Linked DNA regions of Homo sapiens. The main gene of each other region encodes a partner of the protein of the gene in region 2 in a complex. Each region holds a gene or a part of one and is shown on either strand. Other genes may lie near its edges. The genes, in order: SPTSSA, ORMDL3, SPTLC1 and SPTLC2. A codon is read from its position in the direction of its gene.

Region 1 (7,577 bases), on a different chromosome or scaffold from region 2:
AGCGATTCTCCTGCCTCAGCCTTCTGAGGTAGCTGGGATTACAGGTGCCCACCACCACGCCCAGCTAATTTTTGTATTTTTAATAGAGGCGGAGTTGGGGGTGGGGTGGGGGTGGGGTGGTTTTACCATGTTGGCCAGTCTGGTCTCAAACTCCTGACCTCAAGTGATCCGCCTGCCTTGGCCTCCCAAAAGTGCTGGGATTACAGGTGTGAGCCACCGCGCCTGGCCCAGATTAATTTCTTAAAGAGGATAGATGCATTAGTTTACATTTCCTGCTATATAATGCATTTTTAAAAATTTGAAGTTGTGGGCCGAGTGTGGTGGTGGACGCCTGAAATCCCACTAGTCGGGAGGCTGAGGCAGGAGAATCGCTTGAACCCGGGAGGCGGAGGTTGCAGTGAGCCGAGATCACGCCACTGCACTCTAGCCTCAGTGACAGAGTGAGACTCCGTCTCAAAAAAAAAAAAAAAAAAGTTGTAATTTCAGGGGAAATTGATAACGTACTATCACTGTACTTTCCAGGGGCATCCTTGAGCATCTGAATGGATGTTTAGAAATTATTTGCTTCTTGACTTCCCAAGTCAAATAGCTAGAAGTTAGTTAAAAGCTGTTGTAAATTGAAAGTCAATCTTGGCCGGGCGCGGTGGCGGTTCACCAGTCTGGCCAACATGGTGAAACCCCATCTCTACCAAAAAAAAAAAAAAAAAAAAAAAATTAGCTGAGTGTGGTGGCGCACGACTGTAGTCCCAGCTACTCGGGAGGCTGAGGCAGGAGAATCGCTTGAACCCAGGAGGCAAAGGTTGCAGTGAGCCGAGATCGTGCCACTGCACTCCAGCCTGGGCCACAGAGCAAGACTCCATCTCAAAAAAAAAAATAAAAAGAAAGTCGATCTTAGGCCTGGCGCGGTAGCTCACACCTGTAATCCCAGCACTCTGGGAGGCCGCGGTGGGCAGATAGCTGGAGTCCAGGAATGTGAGACCAGCCTAGAAAACATGGTGAAACTCAGTCTGTACTAAAAATGCAAATATTAGCCGGGTGTAGTAGTGTACGCCAGCTACTTTGGTGGCTGAGGCACCAGAATCTCTTGAACCTGGGAGGCAGAGGTTGCAGTGAGCTGAGATGGCGCCACTGCACTCCAGCCTAGGTGACAGCCTGTTCAAAAGAAAAAAAAATCTCAATTGAATATAAGTATTTTTGAACTTACCTATGTAAGGAAATTGCAATTTGTAAAAAAGATTTTAAGATGTGTTTTTAAGGAAAAGCATCTATTGGGTCAAGTCAGACACATTGTGAATAGTTCTTGAAACAGTAAGATTTATAAGTAAGTTTTGTAAATTCTTCCTCACTAGGGCCTATATACCATCTGTCTTTTCTTTTCTTTTCTTTGTTTTTTTTTTTTTTTTTTTCCGAGACAGTCTTGCTCTGTCACCCAGGCTGGAGTGCAGTGGTGCGATCTCGGTTCACTGCAGCCTCTGCCTCTGGGATTCAGGCGATTCTCCTGCCTCAGCCTCCCAAGTAGCTGGGACTACAGGCCGTGCCACCATGCCCAGCTAAATTTTTGTATTTTTAGTTGAGGTGGGGTTTCACCATGTTAGCCAGGCTGATCTTGAACTCCTGACCTCAAGTGATCCCCCCACTTCAGCTTCCCGAAGTGCTGGGATTGATTATAAGCATGAGCCAAGATGCCTGGGCTACCATCTGTCTTCTGATGAGACATTTGAAGTGATACATTGGCTTTTGGTTTGTCAAGGAATATTTGAACTTTTTCCATGTGCAGACATGTTTCTATCTTACAGAGAAATGGGACATGACACCTGCATTAAGACAAAAGGTAACAATAAAGAAGAATCTGATAAGTGCCAATTAGTATTACAGTATATACTACAAAAGGAGACCTACCATAGACTGAGAACCACTGACCTTATCTCAGGAGGAGACATTTTTAACATACCTTTCAAAAGTATCCTTTCCCTACTGGCATCCCAAGGTGGGAAAGAAAAGACCAGGTTTTGTAACCAAGATAGGCTTTTGTAACAGTGAGACACGCCCTGAAGTACCTCACTTGGATAACGTTGTAACCATTCCTGTTGAGAGTTGAGAAAATTAAAAATAGATTGTTAAAATAATTTGAATCAACTTTGGGAGGCTGAGGTGGCTGGATCACCTGAGGTCAAGAGTTCAAGGCCAGCTCGGCCAGCATGGTGAATTCTTGTCTCTACTAAAAATAAAAAATTAGTGGGGCATGGTGGCTGGCGCCTGTAGTCCCAGCTACATGGGAGGCTGAGGCAGGAGAATTGCTTGAACCTAAGAAGTGGAGGTTGCAGTGAGCCAAGATTGTGCCATTGTACTCCAGCCTGGGCAACAGAGCAAATGCTCCGTCTCAAAATAATAATAATAATAATAGTAATAATAATAATAATAATAATAATTTGAATCAGAAGTGTGCTATTTTAATCTTTTTTCTTTTCTTTTTTTTTTTGAGATGGAGTCTCGCTGTGTTGCCCAGGCTGGAGTGCAGTGGCGCGATCTTGGCTCGCTGCAACCTCTGCCTCCTGGATTCAAGCAATTGTTCCGCCTTGCCCTCCCGAGTAGCTGGGACTACAGGTGTGTGCCACCACGCCCGGCTAATTTTTATATTTTTTAGTAGAGACAAGATTTCACCATGTTGGCCAGGCTGGTCTTGAACTTCTGTCCTCAGGTGATCTGCCTGCCTCAGCCTCCCAAAGTGCTGGGATTACAGGCATGAGCTACCGCGCCTGGCCTAATCTTGTTTTATTCATTAAAAAATAAAGTCATATTAGTCTATAATCACTGGGCTATATTTGCCCATCTCTTTGCTGCTGATGATGTTTCCATGGCATGTTATTTTCAGCAAAATGTGGGCAGTTTTTTGGTTTATGTTAGGAATTAGATTCACCCTGAAAGACAGTTCATGTGTCTTGAAAACATTTTTTTCCCACTTTTAAACCACAGTGCTGGGCACACAAATAATGCTTAAAAAACAGTTGTTTATATATTGATTTGTTATTTTATTTTATTGATTTATTATTTTTTTGAGATAGGGTTTTGCACTTGTTGCCCAGGCTGGAGTGCAATGACGCGATCTCAGCTCACTGCAATCTCTGCCTCCAGGGTTCAAGTGATACTTCTGCCTCAGCCTCCCAAGTAGCTGGGATAACAGGCACCCACCACCACGCCTGGCTAATTTTTTGTTTTTTTAGTAGAGACGGGGTTTCACCATGTTAGCCGGATGGTCTCGATCTCCTGACCTCGTGATCCGCCTGCCTCCGCCTCCCAAAGTGCTGGGATTATAGGTGTGAGCCACCGCGCCCAGCCACACATTTTAAGCTGTATGTTATTTTCAGTAGCAACTAAATTATTTTCTTAGATTTTTGCTGTATCCTCAGATACTTACAACTTAGAATTAAAAAGGACTTTTTTTTTTTGAGATGGAGTCTTGTTCTGTTGCCCAGGCTGGAGTACACTGGCATGATCTCAGCTCACTGCAACCTCTGCCTCCTGGGTTCAAGCAATCCTCATTCCTCAGCCTCCTGAATAGCTAGGATTACAGTTGCACGCCACCATGCCCAGGTAATTTTTGTATTTTTAGTGGAGACGGGGTTTCACCATGTTGGCCAGGCTGTTCTTGAACTCCTGACCTCACGTGATCCTCTCCCCTCAGCTTCCCAAAGTGCTGGGATTACAGGTGTGAGCCACCGCGCCTGGCCTAAAAGGACTTTTTTTGCATCTCAATATACTAATTAAAGTATTTGGGAGTTTGGAAAATATGAATTTTAAGTTGTAAATAAAATAGATTATACATCCTTATGGTTGAAAACACAAAAGATACAAAAAGGTAGTTGGTGACACAGTCTTCCTTCCACCCCTGCCTCGGCCACCCTGGGACAACCAGTGTCAGCAGTTTCCTATGCATCTCTCCTGAGATATTCTGTGAATATATAAAAAATATACTCCTTTTTTTTTTCTTTTTTTGAGACAGTTTCGCTCTTTTCCTCAGGCTAGAGTGCAGTGGTGCGAACTTGGCTCCTTGCAACCTTTGCCTTCTGGTTGCAAGCGATTCTCTTGCATCAGCCTCCCCAGTAGCTGGGATTACAGGTGCCCGCCGCCATACCCTGTTGATTTTTTGTATTTTTAGTAGAGATGGGGTTTCACCATGTTAGCCAGGGTGGTCTCAAACTCCCAACCTCGTGATCCGCCCACCTCGGCCTCCCAAAATGCTGGGATTACAGGTGTGAGCCACCTAGCCCGGCTCCTATTTTTTTTTTTTCTCAAGATGGAGTCTTGATCTGTTACCTAGGCTGGAGTGCAGTGGCGCAATCTTGGGTCACTGTAGCCTCCGCCTCCTGGGTTCAAGCAATTCTCCTGCCTCAGCCTCACGAGTAGCTGGGATTACAGGTGCCTGCCACCACACCCGGCTGATTTTTGTATTTTTAGTAGAGAAGGGGATTTACTATGTTGGCCAGCCTGGTCTCGAACTCCTGACCTCAGGTGACCCACCCACCTTGGCCTCCCAAAGTTCTGGGATTACAGGCATGAGCCACTGCACCTGTCTGGGAAATGAACAATTGTAAGATTAGGAAGTAATGTGGGAGAAGTGAATACATTTATAAGGGAGGATGGGAAGGACAACCAGCAAACCACAAGAATTCTCAGACAGATCAAGCTCTGGGAGTACGGTGGAAGCAGACCACCTTTAACCGGATTCTCCTTAAACTATCCTAACCTCCTGGAAAGTTGTCTTGTTAACTCCAGGGCCCTACTGCTTTAGTTTGAAGAAAACTGCTCTAGCCTGTTTAACATGTTAGCCTTTATATTTGGCTGATTCAGTGAGAATGTTAGGATATCTCTTAACTGTACTCCTTAGAATATTAACTTTTTCTTTAGTAGTTTTTGGTTGGTAAAGGTTGAAAATAATGAAAACTGTGCTTAACAAGAACTAAATGGTCTATACCAGGACAGGCAGAGAAAGTCATGGTTGGGTTAATGGCAGTGGGAACAGACCACACATTGATATTCTGCAGCAGTGTTTCAGCATGTGATTCTAGTGATTTGTGAGTAGTGATCACTATAGGTCCTGTCTCCATTTTCTTAAAGACTTTGTGATTCCTCCAGACTATGAGTGTTGTAACATTTATGGCACATAGGAGCTAAGATAGATTTTTTTTTCCCCCTAAAACAGGGTCTTGCTCTGTTGCCCAGGCTGGAGTTCAGTGGCTGGCATGATCTTTAGTTCACTGTACCCTTGAACTCCTGGGCTTAAGTGATCTTCCCGCCTCAGCTTCCCAAATAGTGGGGACTACAGGCACACACCACCATGCCTGATTAATTTTTAAATTTTTAGTAGAGACAGGGTCTCACTAGGTTGCCTAGGTTGGTCTTGAACTCCTGGCCTCAAGCAGTCCTCCTGCCTCAGCTTTCCAAAGTGCTCGGATTACAGGTGTGAACCATCGGACCTGGCCTCTTTTTTTTTTTAAAAGAACAAACCCCAAATGCTCAAATTTAGTAATTTAAGCTATGTGTTCTAGAAGATGTACTTGATAGAGGATATATACTTTTTATAAATTGGAATGTTGAAAAAATAGTAGTTATGATCAATAGTTATGAGAAATAGAAGTTTTACTAATACAAGCGTTTTGGTCAGCATGTATTATATATGTTTCTGAAAAACTGCAAAATAATATGGTTTATAGGAAAATATTATTGAGTCAGACCACTTAAAATGTATGCAATTTAGTAAGCAAGCACTAACAAACACAATACTTGGCATCTTGAGGGAATAACTTGGATGTCCCAGACAGGCAGGCAGCTCAGCTTCACTGGAAGCTGCCCGAGGGGACATGAACAAAGCATGGACAAAGTTGAATGGAAATGTCAGCAGTAGGTGCTGATGTAATACAGACAGTGTGGGCTGCCATTGAGGCAGTGTAGGGCCAGTGCCACCTGCCACATTGGCTGAGAGCTGTGCTACCCTGGAGGTGCCTTTCTCTGAAGAGGGAGACTGGGTACAAATGCGAATTTCTGATTTTCTTAAAATAGAGTTAAAAGGACTTCTGCCTGTATAGCAGCTGAGTTGAGAGATGTTTCCTGCAGAAGGTGATACAGTTGACCCTTGATCCACTTGGGGGTTAGGAGTACTGCCCCCAGGCCCTCATCCTCACCCTGCAGGCAGTTGAAAATCTGTGTACAACTTTTGACTCCCCAGAAACTTTACTAATAGTCTACTTTTGACTGGAGCCTTATTGATAACATTAACAGTCGATTAACATATTTTGTATGTTATATGTATTATATACTGTATTCTTATAGTAACGTAAGCTAGAGGGAAGAAAATCATAAGGAGGAGGAGGAGGGGTTGGTCTTGCTGTTTCAGGGGTGGCAGAGGCAGAAGAAAATCCATGTATAAGTAGACCTGCACAGTTCAAACCCATGTTTTCAAGGGTCACCTAATTATTTTCCCACTAATCTGCTCCCCTAAATGATGAAATATCCCATATGAAGGAATATAGCTCCTGTACTGTACTAGTCGTATGTGAGTTATCTGATGTTACAGAAACATGTACTGTAGCAGAACAGATTATAATTCAGAGCAGACTGGGAAATTTTTCCCCATAACACTGGGACTTCAAATCTTCCTGAGGGTAATAGAAGCTCAAATCAATAAATGTGTGCCAGAGACACTATAACCTTAGTGTCTCTGGGATTAGAGCTACAAACCATTTCCAGGATTTTAGTCCACAGTGAAAAATTTTCAGTCCGTGATCATTACTCATTTCAGCAGCATGCTTTGTTGTTTGTTTAGTTTTAAAAGAGCTTGTCATCAAGTTGTAGTTTCTAAAAACAATTTTCATACTTAGGTTTGTATAATCAGCACACTATAGAAAGCTTAGAGAATGGATTTTGCTTGCTAAACACTAATTTCTGATGGTGATGTGCTATCCTTTAACATGACCCTTGAATATCAAATTGGTTAACATACAGAGGACTGTGACAGTATAATATTGTGACAGTATAATATTTTCCACTTGTTTCAATGTAAGAAAACTGGAAAAGTATCAAGAGATAGTTGATATATCTAGGAAAAATTAACTTTCTTTTTTTTTTTTTTTTTTTTGAGATTGAGTCTCACTCTGTTGCTCAGGCTGGAGTGCAGTGGCGCGATCTTGGCTCACTGCAACCTCCGCCTCCCGGGTTCAAATTCTCATGCCTTAGCCTCCCGAGTAGCTGGGAATACAGGTGTGCGTCACTGCGTCTGGCTAATTTTTGTATTTTTTTTGGTCTGACCTCAGGTGATATGCCCGCCCCGGCCTCCCAAAGTGCTGGCATGGGATTACAGGCGTGAGCCACCACGCTAGGCACTTTCTTTACATTTCTGTTGGTGATGATCTGCAGTTTTTTGAGGTCAAAGGAAAAGAAAACTACAGTAATAAGGAAGCTTTCCTGTTTGGGGCTTCATTCAGTAGCCTGCAGCTGCTTTCACTTAGGGCTTTGATTGCTTTTCAGTAAACAGCATATGATAATACTTCGTCAAATGCTTTGTTTTCTTTTTTCATTAAGAT
Region 2 (7,660 bases):
CATGCCTGTAATCCCAGCACTTTGGGAGGCCAAGGTGGGCAGATCACTTGAAGTCAGGAGTTCAAAACCAGCCTGGCCAACATGGTGAAACCCTGTCTCAACTAAAAATACAAAAATTACCTGGATGTGGTGGCGTGCACCTGTAATCCCAGCCCACTCGGGAGGCTGAGGCAGGAAAATCTCTTGAACTAGGGAGGCGGAGGTTGCAGTGAGCCGAAACTGCACCACTGTGCTCCAGCCTGGGTGACAGAGTGAGACTCTGTCTCAAAAAAAAAAAAAAAAAAAAAGTATAGAAAATAATATAAGGAACTTCATGTCCTCATCACACAGCTTCCATAATTATCACCTCATGGCTCATCTTATTATTTCCCTATGGTTCCCAGTCCAGATTATTTCGAAGCAAATGCAATCACTGTATCATTTCATCCACAGATATTTTAGTATGTATGTATGTCTGAAAGGAGGACTTTTTTTTTTTTTTTTTTTTTGAGACGAAGTCTCTCTCTGTCACCCGGGGTGGAGTACAGTGGTATGATCTCGGCTCACTGCAACCTCTGCCTCCCAGTTTCAAGTAATTCTCCTGCCTCAGCCTCCCGAGTAGCTGGGATTACAGGCACGTGCCACCATGCCTGGCTAATTTTTTTCTATTTTTAGTAGAGACGGGATTTCACCATGCTGGCCAGGCTGGTCTCAAACTCCTGACCTTGTGATCTGCCTGCCTCACCTCCCAAAGTGCTGGGATTACAGGTGTGATCCAACGCACCCAGCCAAGGAAGACTTTTTTTTTTTTTGAGATGAAGTTTCACTCTTGTCTCCCAGGCTGGAGTGCAATGGCACGATCTCGGCTCACTGCATCCTCCACCTCCTGGGTTCAAGCGATTCTCCTGCCTCAGCCTCTCAAGTAGCTGGGATTATAGGCGCCTGTCACCACGCCTGGCTAATTTTTGTATTTTTAGTAGAGGCGGGGTTTCACCATGTTGGCCAGGCTGGTCTCGAACTCCTGACCTCAGGTGATCTGTCTGCCTGAGCCTCCCAAAGTGCTGGGATTACAGGCATGAGCTACCACGCCCAGCCATGGAGGACTTTTTAAATTAAAAAAACAACCTTACCACAATTCCATATCACGCCTAAACATTTAGAATTCCTTAATATCGTTGAATACCTTGTCAGTATTCAAATTTGCCTGATAACTTAATAAAATCTTTTTTTTTTTTTTTTTTTTTTTGAGACAGAGCCTTGCTCAGTCACCCAGGCTGGAGTGCCAATGGTGCAATCTTGGCTCACTACAACCTCTGCCTCCTGGGTTCAAGCAATTCTCTTGCTTCAGCCTCCTGAGTAGCTGGGATTACAGGCGCCCATCACCACACCCAGCTAGTTTTTGTAGTTTTAGTAGAGACGGAGTTTCACCACGTTGGCCAGGCTGGTGTCAAACTCCTGACCTCAGGTGATCCGCCTACCTTGGCCTCCCAAAGTACTGGGGTTACAGGCATGCGTGACCATGCCCGGCCTTTTTTTTTTTTTTTTTTTTTTTTTTTTTAAAGTCAGTTTGCTTGAATCAGGATCCAAATAAGACTTTTAGTTGATATATCATTTAATTTATTTTAATCTGTAAGTCTCTCCCCCTCTTTTTTTTCCTTTTTTTTTTTTTTTTTTTTTGAGACAGGATCTCACTCTGCTGCCCAGACTGGAATGCACTGGCACGATCACAGCTCACTGCAGCCTTGACCTCCCGGGCTCAATTGATCCTCCCACCTCAGCCTCCTGAGTAGCTGGGACTATAGACACACCACCATGCCCAACTAATTTTTGTATTTTTTGTAGACCACGGGGTTTTACCATGTTGTCCAGGTTGGTCTCGAACTCCTGGACACAAGCCTTGGCCTCTCAAAGTGCTGGGATTACAGGCGTGAGTCACCATACCTGGCCCCAGTTTTATTTGTTAAGGGAATTGGGTGTTTGTCCTAATTTTCTTCATTCTAGACTTTGCTGACTATATCCCTGGGGAATGTATGTTATGCTATTTTGTGTCCTCATCTTTTCATATAACTTAGCAAACATTCCCCATACTGCCACAGGGTTTTCACAATCTGTCCTAAATGGCTTCATACTATTCCATCCAGTGGATATACTGTAATTTTTTTCTTGGGCATTTGGTTGCTTTCAGTTTTTCACTACTATAAATATTGCTGGAATGAACATCCTGACACATTGCAGCTTTTCCTGTACATGGGATGACTTCCTTAGAATATGCTACCAAAAGTGTAATTATGGCTCTGAGGCAAGAAGAATTTTTCAGCTTCTTGGCACACAGTGACAAGTGTTTGTCCAAGGGTTTGTATGTCCCCCAGCACGAAATAAGAGAGCTGTCACTCACTCTGAATAGTGCTTAGGGCTATTCACAGCTGAAGAACGTTTGGGGAAGATATGATAATTATGAGGGCCAAGAGAGAAGGAGAAAGATGACAACAGGGACTCCCGCTAAATAAAGCAGAAAGTGATCTGCAATTTACCACAAACCTAGAGTGAGTCAGAACTCTGTTCATTCCTATTGTGAAAAAAAAATCCTCGATAACAGGAGTTATTAATAGTGCATGACATGTTCAGTAATCTTTCTGTTAGACTCTGCATTAGTCAGAACCTTATTTGAGACGTGGACTCAGTCTGGGTCACTGAACTTCATAGAGATGTCAGGAAACTGACCAAGATCCAGAGGGATCGATCAACTTGATGGAGGATGAAGAATCCCAGAGAAAAATCAAAGGAGTCAAGCAGGCACACTTCGGAAAAAACAGAGACACCTTTCTTGCCTTAATGCTGGGGAGGTTTCTGTGAAAAGAACAACACTGGGTTTGCTTATGTCTGCAGAAAGATGACTATAAGGAAAGGCACCTCCACAAACCAGGAGAAACTTCCACAGGACATAGGCAGAGCTATTTCAGACTCAGATGATTATTTCGATCTTGGAATGAGCCCTTTTGGGGCCATTGGCCCTGGAAATATTGAAGAAGCTGCCTGTTCTGCTCTGGGTGGTTCAAATACCCACCTGCCTGGTGACCACTAAGTGCCTCTGGGGGTCCCACTCCAGCTGTGTGACAACTGTTTCCTGGCAGCCCCCTGGGGAAGGAAAGGTAGGTGTAGTCCGAGTAAAGTGCTCCGCAGTTTCCCTGGGCTAGCCTTTTCCTTCCTGTTCCCTCACTTTCAGTTCAGGGTGCCATGAACTGCCATTCAGAGTCAGGTTGGCATGCCATGACATCATCTGACCTTGCTATTCCAGCCCTGCCCTGCATAGAGTGGACTTAGAAAGAAGCTGGGTAAGGAGTTGAAACTACCCAGACAAGACCTCTTGGTGACATGGAGAATGGGAGTAACCGAGGAGACCTCAAGAGCCATTTAGTTCAACCTCCTACAGTAATATTAAGTAGATTCCTACAATGCAACAGGTGCTTTACATACATTCTTTTGGGTTCCCACAACCTTGGAGGTGGGGTTTCACAGGTGTGGAATTGGAGATTAAGACAAGTAATTTGCCCAGGGTCACACTGCCAATAAAGGAGGGCCTACCCCATGTCTACCAGGCAGTAAAGTCTGTGCCCTTGCCTTTAGACGATGCAGATGTGAAAACTGCAGACCAGAGCCTCTCATTCAAAGCCACACAAGCTGACCTGAGACAGAAACTCAGGCTCCTTACTACTGATGGAGGAATCTATGATACGTAGCCTCTTCTCACGTCAGGTGCGGGGCGGCCAAGGATGTGGCCCGGTCCGGGGCAGCCTGGGCCAAGCGTGACTGAGAAGGAGAAGGCAGGCTCCGTTCCGGGCCCTCCAGACCCTCATCCCAGCCAATGTTGTGAAAAGCGCTCTCCCAGGAGGGCCCAGCAGGGCAAAGGGCCGGGCTAGTCTGTTTCTGGAGGAGCCAATCTGGGGCCAGGGCGGAGGCAGCCAGGTGCAGTGGAAAAATCCTGCAGTTGGGGTCAGAATATTTGGGTTTCGATCCAGTCTAGGACCCAGCAAAGACCTACAGAAAGTTACTTACAAGTCCGAGTCTCCTCATCTGCAAAACTGGGGCACGGATAAAATACACTTGAAGGGCACAGAAGCAAAAGTTGGAATTGTTACGCACCAAAATTCTATCATCCGATCTGACCATCACGTCACGGTACAACTTCCAACCGTGCGTCCCCGAAGAGGCCGGGAACGGAGCCCAGGAAAAACTACAACTCCCAGGAGGCGTCGGGAGGGCCGGCCCGGAGCCAGCGGAAGAAACTACAACTCCCAGAAGGCGTCGGGCGTGCCGGCGCGGGGCGGTGACGTACGGGGACCGGCGCGGAGCGCTGATTCGGCCGGAGCTGCCAGCGGGGAGGCTGCAGCCGCGGGTTGTTACAGCTGCTGGAGCAGCAGCGGCCCCCGCTCCCGGGAACCGTTCCCGGGCCGTTGATCTTCGGCCCCACACGGTGAGCCCGGAAGGAACCAAGAGGCCCCAGGGCTACGGGAGGGGCGGGAGAGAAGGTGGGGGCTGCTGGGGAGGCGCCCCGGGCTGGAGAGACGGGGGCAGAGGGAGTGGGGGGTGGAGGGAGTGCATCAGCCGAGGGGGTGCATCGGCTGGGGAGGTGGCCAAGGAATAAAGTGCGAGCGGGAGGCCGGGGGTGGAACGTCGGGAGGAGCGCCTCGGCTAGGGGTGGGAGGCGGGGAGCGGCTCGGCTTCGGGGATAAACGTTTGGCTGCCTCCAGGGCTGGGTGAACGCGTGGAGATGGCTGTGGGGTCCCGGACCGGACCGGGTTCCGAGTGCGAAGACCCAGGCTGGGGAACAGAGCGGGACCCCTCCCCCCGGCCCCGCACCCGAGGTCTCACTCAGAAAACCCCAACAACAGTGAGGACTCCGCCTCTTCGCTCCTCCTCTCCTGTGCTTAGTGCGGGTTCGCCTGGGCACTCGCTTTCCGCTCCTACCGCCCTCCCCCAGTCGGGGTGGCTGGGCCAAAGTTGAGAGGTTATCAGCTGTGGTCCTGCAGCTTGGGGGGTGGGCGGAATGGACATGGCATTGTGACGTGCTGCCCCGGACTCCCCGTTGGGGTCCCCATCCAGGCCTGGATGTTTTGTGCTCCTCTTCCAGAAGACAGGAGGTTTGCTGTTGTGAGGGCTGCTCTTTCCTGGGGGAGGGAATGGGAAGGGCTCACCTGGTGGCTGCCCTGGTGGTGCTCAGCCTTGGCTTGAGTGTCTGGCATACTGGCTGGGCCCGGATATTTGTATGTGGAGCCAAGAGGGTGGGGCGGGAAGGAGGGGGAAAGAGCTACCAGCAAAAAAGTGGTTAACACAACAGAGTTGCTGCAGGCTCTGGTTTGAGGCAGGTTATGAAACCACATCAGGGCCCAGCACTAAGCAGCCACCTGCCAGCTATGGCAGCAGAAGTTTTCGGCTCAACTCCTGTAGACCTAGTCGACCTCTGCCAGCCTCTTCTCTCTGTTTCTCCCCATCTAGGGTAGGGGCCAGTTGGTTGTTTTACTAATGGAAGTGATATGTATCCATAGTCACACGAAAGTCTCAAGAGTGTTTCCTCATTGCCAGTCTTTTTGTTAGTTTATTGATCTCTTCTTTTTCAGGGGTCTCTGGTGGTTTCCTGCTCTCAGGGCACCTAGTGTTTAGGCTTCAGGAAGAAGCTTCTGAGGGTGTTGGCTAGGACCTAGGTCTAGGCTTTTCCTAGGCTCATCAAGTTTTGTTGGCTGCCCTGTGAAAGCCAGAAAGGCGTATGGGGTCCTGTGATCTGGGATTCCCCAAGGCTTTTGGCACTCCTGGACAAATACTAGGAAGGGTTAGTGGACTTTCTATACCAGCACCCCTGTAGGTGCGGGTTACAGAGAGGTGATGGGGTGGCAGTTTCAGGTCAGACTTGGGAAGCTCTTTCCCTCTCCTTAGTCAGAGTTAAGTCCTTCAGAGCCCTCACTTGTCAGCCACATGCCGCCCTCCCCTCTCAGGTGGAGGCTTTTGCGTAGCAGCTGTCCCAGGGGCTGCTAGAGTAACTGAAGCCCCAAGGCCCTGGGAAGATAAACAATCTGAGCCAGCTCTGGCTTTCTAGATACTTGAATTTCTGTTAGGCTCAATTATCCAGCCTAGTGGGCTGCGCTGATGGGTCCCAGGAGCATCTCTTCAATCAGAATGCGCCCCAGGCTGGCGCACGGGTGTTTGCTTGTTGGGATGGCGTGTTGTGGGTCACATTTTCTCTGAGGTCTCTAAGCTTGGAGCTGTCTGAGAAGAGGAAACTTGCTCCTGTTATCCTGGAAGTAAATAACTGGCCCCTGAGGACTCAGTCTCCTGTGCAGGTTTGGCTAGGATCCTAGTCAGAGATAGATAGCATCTGGGTCTGACGGGGTTGCTGCAGGGGCGTGAGGGAGGTGGCCTTCTGGGTACTTCTAGAATATCTCCATCTGGGACTCTTTTCTGCATTCCCAGGAAAGATGGGGCTGTTACCATGGTGATGACCTTACGGTCTTTAGCAAGCAGGACCCTATCTCAGATAGGGAGGTGAGCCAGTACACAGGTGCCATCTGTCTCCACTTTCTCCTGGTCACAGGGCCCTCAGGGATCTGGGGACAGCCAAACTCTGGATAAGGGGCAGATCATTCCACCCCTTCCTTCTCTACTTCCCTCTGCTCACTGTGGGTTGCGGCCACCTCCTGGTTCCTCCTGCTGCAGGACTCCTACCGTTGGTGCTGGGCAGGGGAAGGCATGGTGCTAATATACACCTGGAAACAGGTGCTGAGAGGGGAGACTGAGGTGAGGATGGGCAGGACAGAGAAGAACGGGGGCAGGAGGGAGGCCACAGGTTCGAGTCTGTGCCCTTAGGAGACATATGTTGAGGTGGATTCCAGCTCTCTATGGGAGTTACAGGTGTTGGCCACGTTCTCTATCCTCGCCTCTCTTGTGGGGAAAAGGGCCCTGGTGGTTTGGCAGTGGAGTGGGTAGCATCACAAGGGTTGGCCTGAGTGGCTGCCAAATGGAGAAAACATCCGGATGGGTTGTTTTGTGTCACCCAGGAGGGGTGCCTTCTAGGTCTGGGCAAAGGTTGTCCCTAGTCTGTTGTTTTCTCCTTTCTTCCTCCCTTCCTCCCTCCCCACTTCCCTCTTTCTACCTGATCAGTCCTCCTAAGTTGGGGTTTGGGGAGATCCAGAATTGAAAAAATCAGAGGAGGTGAGTGGATGCAGTGACCTCAAAATAGTTCATCCACTGCTGCCTGTACCCACAGGCCTCACTTCCTTTCCCTCCTGATGGGAAGAGCTTAAGAGCAGATGTCCCACATTAGGCCTTCAGTGAGACACAGTCCAGCAGGGGTTGTGCTGAGTGAGAATTCTCTCCCTGGGGCTTTGTCGGCAGAGGGTCCTCATGGGAGTGCCATAGGGGGTGAGGCTGGGGGATGGGCCTTGACTTCTCTGCCCTGGGGCTGCGTGCCTCTTGATGACCTGTCCTCCGATGCCCTGCCAGGGCCCTGTCCCAATGGGATGATGCATGGGGCAGCCTGTTGTTTATCCCAGCCCAGCAGCAGGAAATGAGTAGAGCTAAGTCCACATGGACTTTCTCCACTTTCCATGCTTCAGAATCAAAAGAGTGGAACTGCCTGGAGTTCTCAGGGAAACAAGGGCCTGCCTCCCAGCGGGATCCGAGGGTGAGAGGG
Region 3 (7,577 bases), on a different chromosome or scaffold from region 2:
TATAGTTGCTATGTCTTTCCAGAAAGGATTTGTGGTGGCTCAACCATGTGTGTTAAAGCATTTTCTGTAATGTAAGGAAATCAAGGGGAATGAATTATTAGGGTAGGCAAAATATGGGGAAATCTAGAAATAAAGTCAGTACCCAAATGAAGACCATATTATGGTCTTGGATACTTTGCTAGGAGTAAACAGCAGTCTTGCAAATAGATGGTTAGAGGGAAGCATGGGCAACTACTGGAGTTTGAATATTCATAAGTGTTGTGTGAGTTGCTGCAGAATAGCACAACTATTTCTGAAGTATGGGATAAAGATTCCCCTGTGGTCTTCTTAAAGGAGAGTCAGAGTAGAAAAGAATCCTACTCATACCCATCTCAAATTGAATTTTTATGTGTATGGTAAATCAAAAAAGAATTCTGAGCATAGAAGTTAAATTTTCATAAATTGTCAAGTCACCCACAAAACTACATGGAAAAGAACCTCTAGCTCTAGTGATAAGGAAAGAGGCGAGGGTGGTTAGTGCACAAAACTCACAAGTGATTGTTTTTATTCTAGCCACAACGAGACATGGTATTTCTAGCAGTGTATTCACTGTGACTTTTGCATTGCAGCAGACAATTTTGATATTGCCGAAGTTGAAGTAAAGTGACTGCGCCTGAAAAGCTTCAGGGGGTTTGAATAAGGATAGCTATAATAACAAGTGCTATGTGGCTTACGGAGGAATGAGTGATAAGTGATTTTAAATCAGTTTGTCTTAGACAAATAGAGCTTGTTATAACTATTCCTCATAAGGATAGTATGAGGAAGGGGTAGGATATATATTCTATTAGGGGGCTGAGGATGAGGGTAAGTCATATGATACCGTAGCCTCCTAACTACTGAGCTGGCAATAGAGACTTCTATGTGGGCTTTAGGGAGTCATAGGTGAAGTTCGTATAGGGGTATTTTTACTATAAAAGCCATAATACATGCTAGTCATATAAGGTTGTTAGATCAGAAGTTTAATAGTTCTTGATTAGTAAACATTATTATTAGGATATTTAGTGAACCTGAGCTATTTCAGGTGTGGATGAGTGTAATAAGTAAGGGAAGGGATCCTACTAGTGTGTAAAATAAGTATGAGCTTGCATTAGGCATTCTGGTTGGTTACCTCAGCAGGTAATAATGATTAGGGTAGGGATGAGTGTAGCTTCGAAAAGAATGTAAAGTATGACTAGTTCTGTGGCTGTAAATGCTGTAATTTAAAAAAGTTGTAGGAAAATTAATTTGGAAATACGGAGTTTTTTTCCATAAGGGTGATTCATTAGATAGGTGATGTTGGCCTGCTAGGATTATAAGAGGTAGTAGTCAGGCTGTTTGGATTAGAAGAGGTGATGTTAATGCGTCAGAAGAAAAAGTTAATGAGAAGTTAGATGAATTATTGTTTGGTTGATTAAAAAATAATAGGGTAATGAGGCTGATGAATAGGCTATGAGTAGCTATATTCAGACTATAGAGTTTTTGGAGAGTTATATTGTAACAGTATAATTGTTGGAATAATAATTTTTGGCATTGGAGTAAATTTAGATTTTGTACATAGTCTAGGCCTTATGCGTTGGAGATTGAGACTAGGAAAGCAAGGCCTACTGCGGCTTTGCAGGCAGCAAATACTAAGAGGATAATGGGTATTATGAATCCTAGAGTGAAATGCATGTTTAAAATTATGAGTGTATTTATGATAAATATTGATAGTATGATGCCTTCTAGGCATAATAGAGATGGTATTAGGTGGGATCGATAGATTAGTACTCCCAGCAGTGCTATGGTATATGCTAATATAATGTTAATATAAATAAATGGCATTTGGTAAATATGGTCTATCATAATCTAATGAGTCGAAATCATTTAATTTAAACTATTTACCAGTTCAACTCAATCTAATCCTTTTTGGGTTCATTCATAAATTAGGCCTAGGATTAGAATGGTAATTAGTAGAAGGGTTGTACTGATTATTAGTATAAGGTTATTTGTTTGAAGGGCTCATGGCAGGGGTAGGAATAGGACGATTTCTAATCGAATAGGAGAAATGTGATGGCTACTAGAAAGAATTTTATGGAGAAGAGGAGGTGGGTAGAGGTTAATGGATCAAATCTACATTCATAAAGGCTGGATTTTTCTATGTAAGTATTAAGTTATGCAAGTCAAAATGTAATTACTACTAATAATAGAGTTAATAAAGTGTCAGTTATTAGGGCTAGTGCTAGGTTAATTACTCTTTTTCAGACTTTGTCGAAACTAGTTGATTGGAAGTCAGTGGTACTGCTTATACTAAAAGAGTAGTAGGACCCTCACCAGTAGATAGAGACACATGGGAATAGTCATACGACATCTACAAAGTGTCAATATCAAGTGGCGTCTTTAAAGCCAAAATGGTGGTTGGATGTAAAATGAATTTTTTTTTTTTGAGACAGAGTTTCGCTCTTGTTGCCCAGGCTGGAGTGCAATGGCGCAATCTTGCCTCACCGCAGCCTCCGCCTCCCAGGTTCAAGCGATTCTCCTGCCTCAGCCTTCCCGAGTAGCTGGGATTATAGGCATGTGCCACCACGCCCAGCAAATTTTGTATTTGTATTAGAGACGGGGTTTCTCCATGTTGGTCAGGCTGGTCTCGAACTCCCGACCTCAGGTGATGTGCCCACCTCGGCCTCCCAAAGTGCTGGGATTACAGGGATGAGCCACCATGCCCGGCCTAAAATGAAATTTTAATTGGCAGAGAAGGCAGATGGTGAGAATTGTTGATCCAATAGTAACATGAAGTCCATGAAAGCCTGTGACTATAAAGAATGTTGAGCTGTAGATTCCATCAGAGATAATAAAGGGGGCCTCGAAATATTCTGAGATTTGTGGAAGGGTGAAATAGACTCCTAAGAGGATTGTGGTAAGTAGTGCTTGAATTGTTTGTTTTTGGTTACCTTCTGTTAGGCTGTGATGGGCTCAAGTCACTGAAACTCCTGATGCAAGTAATATAGACGTATTTAGGAGAGGTGCTTCTGAAGGGTTCAGGGGAAGAATAGCTGTTGGGGGTCAATGTCCTCCTAATTCTGGGGTTGGTGCTAAACTGGAGTGATAGCATGCCCAGAAAAAACCGGCGAAGAAGGATACTTCTGAGATAATAGGAGCATCCTGTATCGGAGGCCTTTTTGGACAATTGCTGTGTGGTGGCCTTGGAATGTACTTTCTCGGACAATATCACGTCATCATTGATATATAGTCAGTGTGTTGGTTAGTAGGCCTAAAGTTAAAAGAGTGGTAGAATTAAAGTGAAATCCTATGGTTAGGCCAGATGTTATTAGGAGAGCCGAGAGAGCTCCTGTTAGTGGTCAAGGGCTAGGTACAACTCTATGGTAGGCATGTGTCTGGTGGGTCATTATGTATTATGCGAACAAAGACGTACTAATAGTGTGAAGACATAAGCTTGAATAAGAGTGACAGCGAACTTGAGAATAGTTAGTAGAATTAGAATAATAAGAAATACTGAAGTTGCAGAGACACTAATAATTGATAATATTAGCACTGCACTGTATTTTAATTCTTTTTCTCCTGTAGGAAAAAGAAGAACTGATTGAAGAGTGGCAACCAGAACCTCTTGTTCCTCCTGTCCCAAAAGACCATCCTGCTCTCAACTACAACATCGTTTCAGGGTAAATTGATTTTGCTACCTGAAGTACTTGTATTTGGCTTCTTGTAGTAACCTGCAGTCTATAGTGCTTTATATGTAGTAGTCCTTTTTTTATCTGAAACAAAACATTTTGAAGTTCCCAGGAGTAACAGCTTTAGCTCCTGATTTTAAAAAATTTATTCTAGGGATGATACAGGCATTTTTTAAAATCTCCAATTTAAGCATTAATGTTTGCCCTTTTTTCCAAGAATGCACACATGTTAATATTTCCAATGGTCGAACACTTAAAATGAAAAGCAACAGACTTCTGCTTTTTACCCATCTGGTTATTTTCTGATTTTAAATTTGTCGCACGTTACCCTCATAATTCTAGATACTGTATAGTATGCTTAACTACCATTTGTTGATTCATCAACTACAGACAACACCTGTTGATCCCCACAATATGAATTATGGAGCTTCCGCTCACTTATGCCTCTTTCCTCCTTGCTTCCAGTGTCTCATCTATTTTTTACTTTTCATTCTCTTGGCTATCTTTGCTATATTGTATGTATTTTCATTAATTAAGAAATACAGTAAGAATATAGAAAGTTATCAGATATAGATATAGATATCAGACACCTATATACCTACCACCCAGAATTAATTGGTGTTAACATTTTGCTATTTTTAATTCAAACTTACTTTTACAGGTAAATACAATATTACAAATGCATCTTAAGAAATTCCTTCACATCCATCACTTACTCTTGCCTCTCATACGGATAACTACTGTCTTGAAGTTGGTGATTGTGTTTTCTTTGCCTATATTTATAATTTTACCATATATGCCTGTTGCCATAAAAATACTTGGTTTATTTTAAAATGTGATACAAGATATTTTCCTGAGTAGTATTGTTCTGATTCTGATCTGATCAAACAGGAGCTTCTATTCTTTACTTCTGTAGATCTCTTCAGTCTTATAAAACTTTTATATATTCTGAAATCAAACCTACCAATCTTTTTTTTTTGAGACAGAGTCTCGCTCTGTCGCCCAGTCTGGAGTGTAGTGGCGCAATCTCGGCTCACTGCAAGCTTCGCCTCCCGGGTTCACGCCATTATCCTGCCTCAGCCTCCCGAGGAGCTGGGACTACAGGCGCATGCTGCCATGCCCGGCTAATTTTTTGTATTTTTAGTAGAGATGGAGTTTCACTGTGTTAGCCAGGATGGTCTCGATTTCCTGACTTTGTGATCCGCCGGCCTCGGCCTCCCAAAGTGCTGGGATTACAGGCGTGAGCCGCCGCACCTGGCCCAAATTTACCAATCTTTTATAGTTTGGTCTTTTGAAGTCTTAGGGAATCGTTTCCTACCCTAAAGATCTAATTTGATTGTTTTCCATATGATGGTCAGTTGTCTCAGCATTATTAGTTGAATAATCCAGTATTTACCTACTGCTTGGAAATTTCCCTTCTTTGGTAAGCCAGATTCCCTTCTAAAGGGTCTATTTCTGGCTTTTATTTTTATTCATTGGATATATTCGTATCTCCTTATACCAGAGACTCATTCATGTATACCACAGCTTTATAATAAACGTTGATTAGAATGTTTTTCTATCTCCGTGTTCTTCAAAATTGTCTAGACTATTCTTGACCCTTCTTCACTGTGAGTTTAGGTTTAGGTGATCATATTTAACCAAAAAAATGCATTTGGGTTTTTTATTAGAAGTGTGTTGAATTTATGGATTAATTTAGGAGGCTTGGTATCTTGCTGATACTTAATCTCACTACCCATTTACATGGTATATATTGCTTGCATACTTGGGTCTTTTGTTTTCTATAGTAAAGTTGCTGGAAGAGGAGGAGGGGAGGAAAGAGGAGGAGAGGAATGCACACATATGGGTGTAGGAGGCTCCCTTCTGAAGGGAGGCTGGAAGGAGAAAGATGTGGGGCTAGGATGTGTGGGGCATGGGTCAGAGGTCAGAGGCACTGAAACTGCAGCTGAATGAGAGCAGCCTCCTTTCTCATTAGGTGGAACCCCCAAAATGGGGGCAAGGTCAGTGGGAAGAGCCAGGGAAGAGTTAGGAATTATGGATATCAAATTTTACTCAATTCTTGGTGTGAGAGAAGGTGGAGGGACAGGCAAAATGAGGGGCCCAACAGCACGTGGGCCGAGTCAGAGTAAGACGAGGAGCTGGGATCCGTGAAGTGTAGGTGGCCAGGGGCAGGGAGTCTCAGCAGGTGTGGAGACAGCAGGGGCAGGCTGGGTGCCACTGCAGTTTGCCATGTCTTACTTTTTTTTTTTTTTTTTTTTGAGACGGAGTCTTGCTTTGTCACCAGGCTGGAGTGCAGTGGTGCGATCTCGGCTCACTGCAACCTCCACTTCCTGGGTTCAAGCCATTCTCCTGCCTCAGCCTCTCGAGTAGCTGAGACTACAGGCACAAGCCACCATGCCTGCCTAATTTTTGTATTTTCAGTAGAGACGGAGTTTCACCATGTTGGCCAGAATGATCTCAATCTCCTTTTTTTTAATTAAAAAGTAAACTTTAATGTCGAAAATGCAGACTTGGGGAGGGCAGAAAGATCACACACAAGGCTGTCACTTCACACTTGGAAGGTTGCACAGCAGCGGGCAGAGACGCTCCTCACTTCCCAGATGGTGAGGGGGCCGGGCAGAGGCGCTCCTCACTTCCCAGACGGTGCAGGGGCTGGGCAGAGGCGCTCCTCCCTTACAAACGGTGAGGGGGCCGGGCAGAGGTGCTCCTCACTTGCCAGACAGGGTGGCGGCTGGGCAGAAGTGCTCCTCACTTCCCAGATGGGACGGCGGCCAGGCAGAGGTGCTTCTCATTTCCCAGATGGTGAGGAGGCCGGGCAGAGGCACTCCTCACTTCGCAGACAGGACGGCGGCAAGGCAGAGGCGCTCCTCATTTCCCAGACGGTGAGGAGGCCGGGCAGAGGCACTCCTCACTTCGCAGACAGGACGGCGGCAAGGCAGAGGCGCTCCTTACTTCCCAGACAGGGCGGCGGCTGGGCAGAGGCACTCCTCACTTCCCGGGCTGTGAGGCGGCCAGGCAGAGGCACTCGTCACTTCCCAGAGAGGGTGGGGGCCTGGCAGAGGCGCTCCTCACTGCCCAGACGGTGCGGTGGCCAGGCAGAGGCGCTCCTCACTTCCCAGATGGTGGGGCGGCTGGGCAGAGGCGCTCCTCACTTCCCAGATGGTGGAGCAGCCGGGCAGAGGCGCTCCTCACTTCCCAGATGGTACAGGCAGAGATGCTCCTCAGGTCTCAATCTCTTGACCTCCTGATCCACCCGCCTGGGCCTCCCAAAGTGCTGGATTACAGGCGTGGGCCACCACGCCTGCCCTGCTGTCTCTTCTTTCTCCTCCTAAGCAGCTCTCTTAGTCTCCTGAATTTTGATGTTCTACTTAACAACCTCATGTTCTTACGCATGTTGCCCTGCTGGAGGCGTCCTTCTCTTTGGGAAGCCTGACCCACCAACAGTGCCTCAGGAGATAGACATGGAAGCTTAGCCGGTGGGGGCCCCTCATCTCTCTCCCACCTCAGTTGCAGGGGAGGGGTCGGTTGCAGCTGCAGCGGTGGCCCCGACAGTTTTCTTTTGCGGGACCTGTGGCCGGCAGCTCTGGGTGGAGAAGACCTACTTGATCCAAGAGCTGCAGGATCCTTGGGCTGCATGTCCTCCCCCACCATCAGCAAGCCTGGAGAGCTGGGCAGGTGGTCTTTACCCAGCACCTTCAAGGCCGCCTTCTCTGGCCACAGGGAGCAGCCCGGAACTGGGGCAGGGAGCACTGTTGGAAGTGGGTCAGGCTTCCCAAAGGGAAGGATGCCTCCAACAGGGCTGTGTGAACTGGCGACTCCATGGCCCTTGGAGTAGAAACTCACTGCATGCACCTGGGCCTTGTCAGTCTGGTTGTTTTCTGTCAAGCTCTTGAG
Region 4 (7,577 bases), on a different chromosome or scaffold from region 2:
CTTGGTTGTTTATGGACAACTGATGAAGTCAAACATGGAACAATTTCAACTGATTGTCAGGCTTGCTTAACACACAGACTTATACATGCCCCAGACGGGTGTATTTTTAACCCAGTACCAAAATAAAACTCTTTAACAAGCGTTTATTGAGTACGTCCTGGGTGAAAGGAAATGGAGCACGCACTGTGAAGTTTTTTTACGCCTTGCGTTTGTTTTTTTAGGAGGAGTATGTGTCTGTGATGGTTTATTCACACTCTCTCGCTCTGTCTTTTTTACGCATTTATTTCCGAATGACTCACTGGGATTAGAGATACAGTTTGATTCTGTATTTTTCGATAAACACACAGAAGCTAACTTAATGGCAGGGTATTTAACATGAGACACTGGTCATTTTATAAGGAAGCTAATGAACTGAGTTAGCCACCACCGTCCTTTAGTCAAGTTTCGATGGTTTTGAACATTTGTTACATTTTGGATTTCAATTCAAGGTGGCAATAATTCACCTATTTTGCCCTGCTTTTTTCTGCCCAACTCTAATTATGTCCTTTGCTATCTGAGGCATGGTTTCTGAATGAGAAATATATCTCTGCATTTCCGGAATAAAGTTAGGAAAGAGGAAGATGCGGTATAACTGTTCTTTTTTGTGCTCTGTAGATATGCAAAGCCTAGAGAAGCTATTGAAAGATGCCATTGTTTATGGTCAGCCTCGGACACGAAGGCCCTGGAAGAAAATTCTCATCCTTGTGGAAGGAATATATAGGTAATCCTGCTTTATTATTCTTACCTTTGTGACTTGGCCCCATGAAGTCATAGAATTTTTTAACTGAAGGGAACATTAGTCTATCCCCCTCTGGAAACTAAGGAGACAGTGTTTATAAGTCGCTAAAATACCTGGAAACAGAGTCAGCATTAGAACAGAAGTCTTTTTGTCTAGTTCTTCGTTATTCTTTCCATAATACTACATGGTCACCAAATCCCCTTTCTATTTGAGTCTTTTATTTTTCTAGTTTGTAGAGGGAACCTATATGTAGGGGCAAGAATTGGAATATATATTTTAATATGTCAAAACAAATTACACACCATTTAATTTTAATAAATATTTTATTTTAGGCTGAGTGCAGTGGCTCACGCCTGTAATCCCAACACTTTGGGAGGCAAAAGTGGGAGGTCGCTCGAGGCCAGGAATTTGAGACCAGCTTGGGCAACATAGTGAGACCCTGTCTCTGTAAAAAATAAATAAAAATTAAAAAGAAATATTTTATTTTGGTTAACCTTTACAGCTTTTACACGTATTTTTACCACCTAATTTTTTTTGTTCTTTTGTGTCATTTTAATTGCCTGTGCAACGTGATGCAAAGTCTCATGTTGCCTGTAATTACAAGCTTTAGAAGAATCTGCTGTGACCTTAATTATTTTTGTCGTGAATTAAGATTGCTTGTGTTTGGTGCTTGTTTTTTGTTTTTTGGTGGTTTGGGTGGCTTTTTTTTTAAGATGGAATCTCGCTGTGTCACCCAGGCTGGAGTGCAGTGGCGGGATGTCGGCTCACTGCAACCTCCGCTTCCCGGTTCTCCTGCCTTAGCCTCCCGAGTAGCTGGGATTACAGGTGTGTGCCACCAAGCCCAGCTAATTTTTGTATTTTTAGTAGAGACGGGGTTTCACTGTGTTGGCCGGGCTGGTCTCGAACTCCTGACCTCAAGTGATCCGCCTACCTCAGCCCACCAAAGTGCTGGGATTACAGGTGTGAGCCACCGCGCCCAGCCAGTGCTTGTTTTAAAAGTCCAGTTTTCTTTCCCCTAGTCTTTTGCCTTGCCATGGCTTCATCTACCTTTGTCAGTTTAAGCCACAGATACAGTTGTCAGACCATTTAAAACCCAATAAACTCAGCCGGGCAGGGTGGCTTATTCCTGTAACCCCAGAACTGTGGGAGGCCAAGGCGGGTGTATCACTTGAGGCCAGGAGTTCGAGACTAGCCTGGGAAACATGAGGAAACCCTATCTCTACTAAAAATACAAACATTATCTGGGCGTGGTGGTGGCGGGCACCTCTAGTCCCAGCTACTTGGGAGGCTGAGGCACAAGAATCGCTTGAACCCAGGAGTCAGGGATTGTAGTAAGCCGAGATTATGCCACTGCACTTCAGCCTGGACAATGGAGCAAAACTCTGTCCCAAGAAAAAAAAAAGAAGCAGTAAACTCAATAATAATGAAGTGCCAAACTCCCAATTTTGATTTAAAAAGTCTCAGTGTATATGTGTATATATATATTTTTTCATGTTTTGCCAGCATGGAGGGATCTATTGTTCGTCTTCCTGAAGTGATTGCCCTCAAGAAGAAATACAAGGCATACTTGTATCTGGATGAGGCTCACAGCATTGGCGCCCTGGGCCCCACAGGCCGGGGTGTGGTGGAGTACTTTGGCCTGGATCCCGAGGATGTGGATGTTATGATGGGAACGTTCACAAAGAGTTTTGGTGCTTCTGGAGGATATATTGGAGGCAAGAAGGTAAACGAGCCATGAGAATGAGCGATTAGAGATAAAGTCACTGGCAATTAGATTTGGTACCTCAGGCCTAGCAGATGGGGCCCTGAACTGGGATGTCCGCAAATTTGCCTCTGGTTTAGGCTCATAATACCAGTGAGTGACTCTAATGTCTCCTCACTGAACTAAAGGCTGGTTCTGTTCATTGTTTGTTGTTTTCTTATTTGAGCTTCTTTCTAAGCTACATGCTGATCTGAGATATAGAATACCCTCTTGTGTGAAAGAACACACAGTGGTGCTCCCTGCCCGCCCCAGCCTTCTGTTGGGTTTGCATTGTGCTCACAGTTTCAAAAACAGTGGGGTTGTCATGGGAGCCCATGGGAATAGCAGGTCACCTTGCCCTTGGACACAAATATATCATGAGTGAACATGGAGACAGGAAGCAAAAAAGTTGTGCCAGCTGTGGGGTACTACAAAGCATTGTATTTTTCAATTTTTAAACTATGAAGTTGCCTTTTCTGGGTCTTTGTAGTCAGAAAAAAATCATACGGTGAATTTTGATGCAGGTAAGAATCTGTGGTGTGGTCGAAATGGTGAACCATAAAGACAGAGGCCTGGGTCTGAATATTTCTCGGCTTACTTTGTTAGACCTCAGGGAAAACATTTAACCTCCCAGTTTCCTTGTCAGTAAAATGGAGATAAATATGCCCAGCTTGTAAGATTGTAGTAAGGGTTTAAAAAGTAATATATGTCCATGCTACAACGTGGGTGCACCTTAAAAACATTATGGTAAGTGAAAAAAGTCACAAAAAGTCACATATTGCATGTTTTAAAATATGTGATACCTAGAATAAGCATAGAAACAGAAAGTAGATTAGTAGTTGCCGGAGGCGGAGGGGATAGGGAAATGGAAAGTGAATGCTAATGGGTATGAGGTTTCCTTTCAGGGTTATGGAAATGTTCTAAAATTAGTGGTAAAAGTGGCACAACTCTGGATATACTAAAAACCACTGAATTGTGCTTTAAAACGGTGAATTCTGTGTATGTGGCTTATATCACAATGAAGCTGTTATTTTTAAACGTTGATTGCAATGTTAGGGAAAAAATAATGTATGTCAGGTATTTGTATATGGCACAGAGGAGGTGCTCATAAATGTTCTTAATTTTGCTTCACCACTCAATATTCGGAGTATTAAAGAATGGTTATGCTGGGCACAGTAGCTCACACCTGTAATCCCAGCACTTTGAGAGGCTGAAGTGGGAGGATTACTTGAGCCCAGGAGTTCAATACCAGCTGGGCAACATAGTGAGACTTCATCTCTACAAAAAAGTAAAAAAATTAGCTGGGTGTGGTGGTGGCACATGCCTGTAGTCCCAACTATGGGGGAGGCTGAGATGAGAGGATTGCTTGAGCCTGGGAGATCAAGGATGCAGTGAGCCGTGATTACACCACTGCATTGCAGCCTGGGCAACAGAGCAAGACCCTATCACAGAAAAAAAGGTCATTCTTTTAATACTTGATTGCCTGTTAGAGAGAACTCATTTTCAGTGACTTTTAATCAGCTTTGATAGATTTTTTTTTTTTTTTTTTTTTGAGACCAAGCCTTACTCCATTGCCAGGCTGGAGTTCAGTGGCACAATCTTGGCTCACTGCAACCTCCGCCTCCTGGGATCAAGCGATTCTCCTGCCTCAGCCTCCCAAGTAGCTGGGACTACAGGCACGTGCCACCATGCCCAGCTAATTTTTTGTATTTTTAGTAGAGACAGGGTTTCACCGTGTTGGCCAGGATGGTCTCGATCTCTTGACCTCGTGATCTGCCCGCCTCGGCCTCCCAAAGTACTAGGATTACAGGTGTGAGCCACTGCACCTGGCCAGGTTTGATAGATTTTTATCTCAAATATTACCTTTTTGTTAATGGGACCAGGCTCACTTTGGAGAGTTGTTTTTTAGTAAGCTTTGTGGCTGTGAACCAAAGGATAGAAAAATAATACTCTGGGAGATCATTAAAGTACAATATATTTGTGCTTTTGGTTTTTTTAGTACAATTTTTAATATTTTTGAGATAAAACTGTTTCATAGCCACATTTGTGTCCCCCTAATTTGTTCTGGTACATAAGCTTCTTGTGTGTGCATTTTAAAGATTTGGTGAAATTAAAAGATATCAGAGAATAGGGATATACAATTAAGTTTTTTTGAAATCCTTGTAAATGACAGAGTTTTACTTTATTCAGTGAGATGTCATTGGCATTTTAATAAAATACCTTGTAAGTTTCTATTTCACATTTATATCATTTTATACATTTCTGCATATCTGGAGGAAGTTCTAATGCTCTTAAAGTTGATGTTAGAGAACTGTTATTTAGGGGTAGAAGGATGGGCTTTATAGGCACACAGAGCTGCAGATGACATTTTCTGTGATACTTGGAATTAAATCATTATATCTAAAAAGCAATCCAAACACCTTGTTTAATTCAGCTGTGTTCATTTATTTTTAACTTTTTTTTTTTTTTTTTTTTTAAGACGGAGTCTCACTCTGTCCCCCAGGCTGGAGTGCAATGGCGCAATCTCAGCTCACTGCAACCTCCGTCTCCTAGGTTCAAGCGATTCTCCTGCCTCAGCCTCCCAAGTAGCTGGGATTATAGGTGCCCGCCTCCACGCACAGCTGATTTTTGTATTTTTAGTAGAGATGGGGTTTCACCATGTTGGTCAGGCCAGTCTTGAACTCCTGACCTCAGTAGATCCACCCACCTTGGCCTCCCAAACTGCTGGGATTACAGGCATGAGCCACCATGCACGGCCATATTTCTAACTTTAAATGATACATTCTCCAAATTTAGAGGGGTTGTTTTAAAACTAGTTTTTCTCTTATGTTGTTCCATGTTTAAAAAACAAAACCAAACCTAAGAACTTTGCCATGTTTCTGACCCAGTTGTTGCCAGCGGTATGCTTCGACCATGTTGGTTGACCTTGTATCTCAGATTAGTGTCCCTATTCCAGTGCCATTGAAGTGAGGAGTCCTCTAGAACTTAGAAGGAAAGGACTGACATTGCCGGTGAATGCAAGAATTGTCTCTACTTATCTGCCTCTGTGAACTCCCCAGGAGCTGATAGACTACCTGCGAACACATTCTCATAGTGCAGTGTATGCCACGTCATTGTCACCTCCTGTAGTGGAGCAGATCATCACCTCCATGAAGTGCATCATGGGGCAGGATGGCACCAGCCTTGGTAAGTCTTTCTTTTCTTGAAACATTGCATAAGTCCACCTAGCAGCCAAACGTGCTGTTTTTCTTGAGCTTTTTTCCTAAAATAAATAGTCAGGTTTACTAATAGGCAGAGCTGGCTGGTGTGTGGTTTCCATGGACACTTTTTTAGTGTGTTTGATACATATGCCATGAGAACGACCCTGGCTCACTTTCTATGGAATTTTCTTGTTTATAGATGGGAGGCTTTACTCTTACTATCCTACATACCCTCTTAACTCAGAGGTAATATACCTTCGAGGTTTTTCTTGAATTACATAATTTTATGTGAAGGTATAATTCACTGTTAGTGATGTTTCATTAACAGCATAGTTAAGAGCTGCTGTTTTCATAAATTAGTATTCCTGATTTAATGCCTTTTTAAAGAGTTTCTACTTTCATATACGGTAGATAATAAATGACATCCTGAATCAGTTTATTTTGTCTTTGATGGGATTTGTAGTCCCAACTAGATGCCTTGATTTAAACATACTACTGTGAACAGTGAAGTTCAGTGTTCACTTTCTGACATTTGACTTTTATTCTGCAACACCAGAGGGCAGTATTGACTGCAGAACAGTGGTACTAAAAGGGGAGCAACTGGGTGTCTGTCTTTACTTTAAAAAATATTTTCATTGCATGTATGAGACAATAATTTCACTTGTCGCTTTTTTTTTTTTTTTTTTTTTTTGAGACGGAGTCTCACTCTGTCACCCAGGCTGGAGTGCAGTGGTGTGATCTTGGCTCACTGCAAGCTCTGCCTCCCGGGTTCACACCATTCTGCCTCAGCCTCCCGAGTAGCTGGGACTACAGGCGCCCGCCACCACGCCCGGCTAATTTTTTTGTATTTTTAATAGAGACGGGATTTCACCGCATTAGCCAGGATGGTCTCGATCTCCTGACCTCGTGATCCGCCCTCCTCGGGCTCCCAAAGTGCTGGGATTACAGGCGTGAGCCACCGTGCCCGGCCCAGTTGTTGCTTTTTTAATGCTTGTAAAGTCAGTTTGGCATTTGTAAAAGATTTCACATTATCAGCCATGAGCTCTCCACTCTACAGTTATGTAATACTTTATTGTAAGATTGATTTGGCTTGCATCGAATAAAGTGGCACATCTGATTTTGGTTGGTTTAAGACTGTTTTCTTTCTTTCTTTTTTTTTTTTTCTGGTTTTTGTTTTTGAGACAGAGTCTTGCTCTGTCTCCCGGGCTGGAGTGTAGTGGTGCGATCTCAGCTCACAGCAACCTCCGCTTCCCAGGTTCACATGATTCTCCTGTTTCAGCCTCCCAAGTAGCTGGGACCACAGGAGTCTGCCACCACACCTGGCCATTTTTTTTGTATTTTTTGTAGAGATGGGGTTTCACCATGTTGCCCAGGTTGGTCTTGAACCCCTGGGCTCAAGCAGTCTGCCTGCCTTGGCCTTCCAACGTGCTGGAATTACAGCTGTGAGCCACCACACCCAGCTGACTGTTTTCTTTTCTTTTCTTTTCCTTTCCTTTTCTTTCTTTTGAGATGGAGTTTTGCTCTTGTTGCTCAGGCTGGAGTGCAATGGCATGATCTTGGCTCACCACAATCTCTGCCTCCCAGGTTCAAGCGATTCTCCTGCCTCAGCCTTCCCGAGTAGCTGGGATTACAGGCATGCGCCACCACACCCGGCTAATTTTGTATGTTTAGTAGAGACCGGGTTTCTCCGTGTTGGTCAGGCTGGTCTCGAACTCCCGACCTCAGGTGACCTGCCTGCCTTGACTTCCCAAAATGCTGGGATTACAGGCGTAAGCCACCGCGCCCAGTCGACTGTTTTCTTAAATCAGAATTTTACCTTAACATTTTTTCTGATCTGTGCTAGATCCTTGTTATCTCT

The links.
Region 1: the proteins of ORMDL3 (region 2) and SPTSSA are in contact, whole or in part, in a cryo-EM structure (PDB 7CQI), measured with the Homo sapiens proteins. Residues at the interface, in NP_001307730.1 of Homo sapiens: Val36, Leu38, Ser39, Ile40, Pro41, Phe42, Ser44; in NP_612145.2 of Homo sapiens: Ile44, Tyr50, Thr51, Val54, Phe55.
Region 3: the proteins of ORMDL3 (region 2) and SPTLC1 are in contact, whole or in part, in a cryo-EM structure (PDB 7K0N), measured with the Homo sapiens proteins. Residues at the interface, in NP_001307730.1 of Homo sapiens: Gly92, Val93, Gln94, Phe95, Thr96, Ala97, Lys100, Thr103, Ile104, Ile107, Tyr110, Phe111, Ser114, Tyr119, Gln121, Phe124, Thr128, Leu131, Met132, Leu139, Pro140, His143; in NP_006406.1 of Homo sapiens: Ala16, Leu17, Ala20, Pro21, Tyr23, His24, Leu27, Glu28, Leu31, Ile32, Trp34, Ile35, Leu38, Leu39, Ser41, Lys42, Thr43, Tyr44, Lys45, Leu46, Gln47.
Region 4: the proteins of ORMDL3 (region 2) and SPTLC2 are in contact, whole or in part, in a cryo-EM structure (PDB 7K0O), measured with the Homo sapiens proteins. Residues at the interface, in NP_001307730.1 of Homo sapiens: Met1, Asn2, Val3, Gly4, Thr5, Ala6, His7, Ser8, Pro12, Val16, Ser19, Arg20, Gly21, Ile22, Leu24, Ser25, Leu28, Phe63, Val67, Lys68, Gly69, Thr70, Pro71, Phe72, Glu73, Pro75, Gln77, Arg81; in NP_004854.1 of Homo sapiens: Glu65, Thr66, Pro67, Met68, Ala71, Val72, Tyr75, Tyr86, Gln116, Phe118, Glu119, Asn120, Phe121, Tyr122, Tyr127, Trp134, Asp259, Glu260, Leu261, Asn262, Val267, Arg271, Ile279, Met320 (codon at 2,283), Val495, Val496, Gly497, Phe498, Pro499, Ala500.

Annotation. Positions count from the first base shown.
Region 1 is NC_000014.9:34,451,801-34,459,377, reverse strand, and holds part of SPTSSA (serine palmitoyltransferase small subunit A), read left to right. Parts: intron 1-7,577. UniProt on the Homo sapiens protein: Component of the serine palmitoyltransferase multisubunit enzyme (SPT) that catalyzes the initial and rate-limiting step in sphingolipid biosynthesis by condensing L-serine and activated acyl-CoA (most commonly palmitoyl-CoA) to form long-chain bases.
Region 2 is NC_000017.11:39,924,274-39,931,933, reverse strand, and holds the start of ORMDL3 (ORM1-like protein 3), read left to right. Parts: upstream 1-4,332; 5' UTR 4,333-4,450; exon of another isoform or gene 4,451-4,505; intron 4,506-4,931; exon of another isoform or gene 4,932-6,311; intron 6,312-6,562; exon of another isoform or gene 6,563-6,765; intron 6,766-7,128; exon of another isoform or gene 7,129-7,179; intron 7,180-7,660. UniProt on the Homo sapiens protein: Plays an essential role in the homeostatic regulation of sphingolipid de novo biosynthesis by modulating the activity of the serine palmitoyltransferase (SPT) in response to ceramide levels.
Region 3 is NC_000009.12:92,104,837-92,112,413, reverse strand, and holds part of SPTLC1 (serine palmitoyltransferase 1), read left to right. Parts: intron 1-3,579; coding exon 3,580-3,674; intron 3,675-7,577. UniProt on the Homo sapiens protein: Component of the serine palmitoyltransferase multisubunit enzyme (SPT) that catalyzes the initial and rate-limiting step in sphingolipid biosynthesis by condensing L-serine and activated acyl-CoA (most commonly palmitoyl-CoA) to form long-chain bases.
Region 4 is NC_000014.9:77,550,224-77,557,800, reverse strand, and holds part of SPTLC2 (serine palmitoyltransferase 2), read left to right. Parts: intron 1-654; coding exon 655-760; intron 761-2,281; coding exon 2,282-2,501; intron 2,502-5,578; coding exon 5,579-5,705; intron 5,706-7,577. UniProt on the Homo sapiens protein: Component of the serine palmitoyltransferase multisubunit enzyme (SPT) that catalyzes the initial and rate-limiting step in sphingolipid biosynthesis by condensing L-serine and activated acyl-CoA (most commonly palmitoyl-CoA) to form long-chain bases.